Regions from separate parts of the Homo sapiens genome. Here region 2 is linked to region 1. The links come from fine-mapping of genetic effects on gene expression. A gene starts in region 1. The other region holds a variant in brackets. All regions are shown on one strand. Distances are between the middles of the regions. Region 1 holds the start of IFT57 (intraflagellar transport 57). Region 2 overlaps MYH15 (myosin heavy chain 15).

What was found. PIP is the estimated chance that this variant, and not a neighbour inherited with it, causes the effect.
Region 2: its variant is fine-mapped to the expression of IFT57 in sun-exposed skin (GTEx, PIP 0.99).

Annotation. Positions count from the first base shown.
Region 1 is chr3:108,221,405-108,223,904 of GRCh38, forward strand. It overlaps IFT57 (intraflagellar transport 57), which reads right to left and starts at 1,020. Exons shown (of 11, transcript NM_018010.4): 1 at 707-1,020. The coding sequence starts at 918. It overlaps LOC124909405 (a long non-coding RNA gene), which reads left to right and starts at 1,201. Exons shown (of 2, transcript XR_007095999.1): 1 at 1,201-1,282; 2 at 1,542-2,500. RefSeq lists an enhancer at 739-998 and a silencer at 934-1,227.
Region 2 is chr3:108,405,223-108,408,249 of GRCh38, forward strand. It overlaps MYH15 (myosin heavy chain 15), which reads right to left. Exons shown (of 41, transcript NM_014981.3): 33 at 116-231. Among named protein-coding and RNA genes, the nearest start is that of MYH15, 100 kb to the right of the region's middle. RefSeq lists enhancers at 1,605-1,704, 1,765-1,824. The variant C/T (reference allele first, on the strand shown) is at 1,545.

The DNA of each region.
Region 1 (2,500 bases):
TGCTTTCAGGATATGTTGGACTTTTCCCCCACCGGAACAAGGGTAAAACTTTAGGTTCTATGATAGGGGGACAATTCAATAGTTGTCATTCGTCTTTTCCACTTTTCAGTTTCTGAGAGTATGGTTATTACAAAGGCAGAAGTCTTTTAAACCATAGCAAGTAGTTAACAAGTTTACTAACCGCATTTAAAGTGCTCCTTAACAGGATCCTAAGTACCCACGGTCCCCAGTTGTATGAACAGGGTCTTAAACAACAACAAAAAACCCCAAACTAGAAAAAAAGCCTTAAGTGATAATGGCATTCCTCTCTGGAGGCGAATTTTGGACGGTCTTATAATTTTTCTAGACATTTACTTGTGTTTTTCTGAGTTTTCTTCAATGAGTATTTGTTTCATCTTTACAATCAGAAAATATAGTTTGTGTTTTCTGGTAATGCGTGTGTGTTGGAAAAAAACAGGCAAGCTGTCTTCCGATCCTTTCTGCCGTTCCAAAACTTATTTATTCTCTCTACAAAAATACCAAGTCAGGGCTGCGTGAGCTCCACGGACCTCCCGGGAGTTTGGGGTGAAGTGCCCTTCCCTGGCTAGGAAGACGGAGGCAAGGAATTGCTAACCCGCTCTCACGAAACTGGTTCCCAGCAGGACCAAGGAGGGCATCTCCCTGGGGGCTAGCAGGCACCCGGGCGCTCGGGGACGCCGGCACCCACCTGGACGGGGCCTTCAGGTTGCTCTTCCGGAGGAACTCCTCCTCGTAGCGGAGCAGCTTCAGCTTCTCCACCAAGTCCTCCATCACCACGAACATGTGGTAGGCCGCGCCGGGCCCCCGCTCCAAGACCACTTCCCCGGTCCCTTCGCCACGGGACCTAGGCACCCCATCTTCCAAACCCGACGTCGTGACGACGGCCAGAGCAGCAGTCATCGCAGAACGGACAGAGTCCAGCGTGGGCTCAGGCCCACAGACCTCTGCGGCCTAAGCCGCCAGCCCTGCCGCCGCCAGTACAGCCACGACCGGTTACCAGGCGACCACCGGACAATCCGTCACCAGGGAAACTAGACTCCGCCTCCTTCCCTCCAATCAGGGCGGCTTTCCTGAATGACGTCACCTGTGGCCCTCTTCTTGCCCTGCCTCTGTGGAAATGGTGGTCGGGAAGCAGCCCCGCCCCTCATGGAGGCGTGGCGTTCGCGCCCCACTGCCGGCTGCGTCTTCTCCCTCGCTGAAAGTCTGAAGGGAGCCGGCTTACGTTTCTGCTCCGCTTGCCTAGTGAGTCTTGAGCTGGCTTGAGGTGTGTTGGACCTGGTGGTTGCTAAAAGCAATTAAGCGGGCATCTGGGTCAGCTAGTAGCTGTTAAAAAGATTAAAGGGAGGTGAAGACGTGTAGCACTGAAGGCTGCACTGGCTCACTGATACCTTTATTTTCTCAGAATTGAAAAGTTTTTCATAGTTGTAAAGATAGTCAATACCATAGGTTTCACTTTTACTGCAGGAACTTTCCAACGAGAGGTTTCTCTCGTTCTTTCTTTAATTTTATCTTTCTCTCACTAGGCAATGCTGCACTTAACAGTATATTGTAAAGCTTGAAGTACTGTATTACGTTGCCTGGCTGTTACTCCAGTGCTAGGAAAGTGGTTGGAAGGATGAGGAAGACAATGAACAAAAGGAGGCATTTGGAAGGATTTGTTTTACTTCAAAAACAAGAATACTAAGCTTCCATCCTGCTGCTTAATCTGTTTCAAACCCATTACATGTAGTATAAAGTGTTTGGGTACTTCGTTAAATCCAACAGAATAGAGATGGTCTTAAAAGGAATTTCCCTGCCCTAAAGCTCTAAGGGTGGCTAAAGATAGGGTGTTACTACTGTATTCTGCAGTTATTGACCTAGAAAATTTAAGAAAAGGTACATAACTGACCACAGAAATGGCCCAGCTTTACAGTTTTCAAAAGGCTTCTGTATTAGGCAATTTTCTTAACAGTTGCAAAAAATGAGGTAAGTGGTGGATGCCTGGCAGTTTTTGGGAAGAAAACTTAGTACAAGAGATTGAACATATGTTCATGTTTATAACGTGACTTTTAAGGGCTCTCTGATCTCTTGTATCTGCCACTACAAAATATAGAAGGGCTACATTTTTGGACAACTGAAATTTGAAATGTATCTACAATATCCTGTTTTTATTAGAAAAAATGAGAACACTTTTCATTGTAATCCGTCTACAGCTAACTTGTTTCTGATACTAATAAGGTTATCAAAGTGAAAAGTCAGAAGGGCAAATACCATTTTTTCATTAAAGAAAGGAAGTACATAAAATTACAGACTTATGTAGAGAATAACCTGAAGGGCAGCCCACTGAGAATTGCTTTTTAAATAAATAACATTGCTTGCCTACCACAAGTCATGAGCCAGCTGCTTTTAATAAAGTTGAGTGAGAAAATTGGATTTGATGTTACCCCACTACCAAATTGATCTTTCCTGGTCTTTGCCTTTTTGAAACAGTGATTCTCCCCGA
Region 2 (3,027 bases), 180 kb after region 1:
AGTTTCTTTGGTAATGCTCCAACAGGGGCCATAAAAGCAGCCAGACATAATGAGCTCTGTTTAGTCAAGGATTCAGAAATACATAATTGTTACACATCAAAATCATCTTAAATACCTAAAATTTTCTATTTCTTCATCTTTCTCTGAAAGCTTTCTTTCAAGTTCTGCTTTAGCTTCCAAGAGTTCAAGCTGGAAATGAAGAATCTTGCTTTCATTACGTTCCAGGGCTCCCTGGAATACATAAATAAAAAGCATTAAATGAAGTCCACTTTTAGACAAAATTGTATTTTTTACCCAAAACATATGTCGCTAATGTAGCTCTCTTAGAGTTACTGGGAGAGATATAGGTTCAAGCCAGGTCCCTAGAGATTGCAACACAGTGAGACAAGCAACTGCTTTCATTTGTCATTTCACTTATAGATTTGACATTCTTAGGTCTTTCAGCTGTAGCTCCAGAACTAGAATTTTAAAGCCTATTTTAAAATAGAAAATTTCACTCTTGTCTGTGACTATATTTAAACTTTTTAATGTATTACCCTTGACTTTTTCTAACATATTCCAACTTTGGGATAAATTTTAAAAAGTATCAGAGCTAGAACAAGGAAGGTGATAACTCCTACCTGGAATCTTCTATTAAATTCTGGACATCACGAGGGGATAGAGGAAAAGTTGGATGTATTCAGAGAACAAACAACAGGGTAGTGTCCAAATATTGTCATATGAAGAACAAATAAAGGAATTTACAATGTACCTGACATGTAACACTCAGTGTGAGCCATTAACACCATAATTGGTACCACTACTGCAAATGAATTTCTTTGACAGGCAGAAGATTCCTTGCCCCTTTGTGTATTCAAATATAGTTAAGGCAATTATTTGCAGGGATGTTATAAAGGCAATTCAATTCTAAAAGCATAGGTTTGGCTAAATCTTTAAAACCCGTCCTGAAGCTAAAAATGTATATAAAAGAAGAAATCCAAAAAACACTTACAGAATACCAAGGATATAAGGGCATAAGGGGTGATGCAATTTTGTGGTCAGTTAGCTACAGGCAGTCCTAAGGGCAGAAGTAATTTTTTCATAGCCTCTTTTGAGGCGTGCTTAGCAGATATGACAAAATGTAAAAAAGTAAAACTGAGTTGCAATTTTAAAATAAAAATAAAAAGATGATGGGAATTTTAATAAGACCTCCCTTGATGTTATCTTGATACTACCTTCAATATAAAAGAAAATAAAATTGCTAACGCACACTCAAAAACAAATGCTTGGATAACAATTTCCTCAGAGGGAATAGTGTAGTAGTTCCTTCAAGAGGAAACTGTCACCTCTAACCCTCTAAAATGCACTGAGAAAGTGAATCTTTAGGGAACATGACCTGGGATAATGTGAGTTTTATGGCTTTAAAAAAATCTGATAAAGTTTCTCATAAAGGCTCACCCAGGAAAATAAATAACGCAATGTTACAAATACATGTCCAAGTTGATGAAGTATTTATGGATGTGGCTGAGGACAGAAGTGGAGAAAATGCGAATAGAATGTGTTGC[C/T]ATCTAGTGGTACTAAGTGGTTTGAGCATTATGGCCTTCCTGTCATTCTCACCCTTGACCCACGTGATGATCGACTGAATACACAAAGATGCCTCTGTGTTATACAGGACATAAATGGCCCGTGCCAGTTGTATTTTTCATTGGCTTGTCATAGTACTTGAAATTTCTATCATAAAATTTACTTCTTTCAGTTAAGGTGGTGGCTTCAAAAAGTCCCTTGCCAGGATAGCCAGAGAACCAAAGGGAACGAGTAAACAAAACAAAGTTCACCAACTGTGTAAGGACCAGCTGTGCTACAGGGCACCACACTGCCAACGAAAAGGAGTCTGTATAAAGTTAGATAGCCTCAGGAAACATTTATGTATAACAGGGTGAGAGCTGCTGCCTGACAACTCTATACAGAGGGTAATATGGACACATTTGCTTGGAAGTTTCTTCTGGAATCACAACGGTGAGGTAAATTTAACAGACAATGCTTGGCACAGAGTGGTCCTTTGGGGTCTTGTTTTCCATCGCCATACCTTCCAAGAGACCCCTGCCTAACACTGACTGCCACACCTTTCAAAAATCTTTTTTCTTTTTCTACTGGTGGGAGGATCAGGGCTGTATTTTAATGTGTCTGAATACTTGTTCAAAGGCTGAGTCAGGAAGATGAAGTTCAGCTCTGAGAAGAGGCTGCACAGGGCTTCTTAACCACCTAAGAATCATGATAAGATGACTTCCTTGTTAGTTTACCTTCTTTGGCGAAATGTCTTCTTAGAGGTCCTTTCAATTGCTAATGCACACCCAGAGATACAGCCAGAGACTTTTCCTGAACTGTGAATCCATAACACTGAAAACCCTCCTGTCAATCTGCACAAAGATGAGCTTTCAGAAACAAATGTTTGACAACATCACTTTGAATCTTATTTCTGAAACTACCGAAAGTTTTTGGGGAAAAAAAATTGAAAAGCTTTTGTGACTGACTCTTTAAAGAGGGGGCAGCTATGAGAATATTTATTCATTCAACATTTGACAAATATTTACTGAGCCTCTACTACATGCCAGGCAATGTTCTAGGCCAGTGCTTCTCAAATATTAATGTGCATATGAACCACCAAGGGATCTTGTTAAAATGCAGATCCTGATTCAACAGAGATGGGCAGAGGGCTGAGATTCTGAATTTCTAACAGCCTCCCAAGCGATGTCCATGGGCCACATGTTGAGTAGTGAGGGTCTGGGCACTGGGGATAAACTGGTGAACAAGATAGATAGTTCCTGTTTTTACTACAATCAGGAGATTTGCATTCACTGTTGTGTATCCTGCTCTCTGAGTCTCAATTTCCTCTTTTATAAAATGGGGACAGTAGTTTCCTACGGTGATTATATTAAAATTATGCATTTGGCAGAGTGCCTAGCATATAGTAAATAAACATTTGAATACGTGTCCTTTTGTTGGTGCTGCTGTTATTGCTGAATGCAGATCTTCTGCCTTGTCACAGTG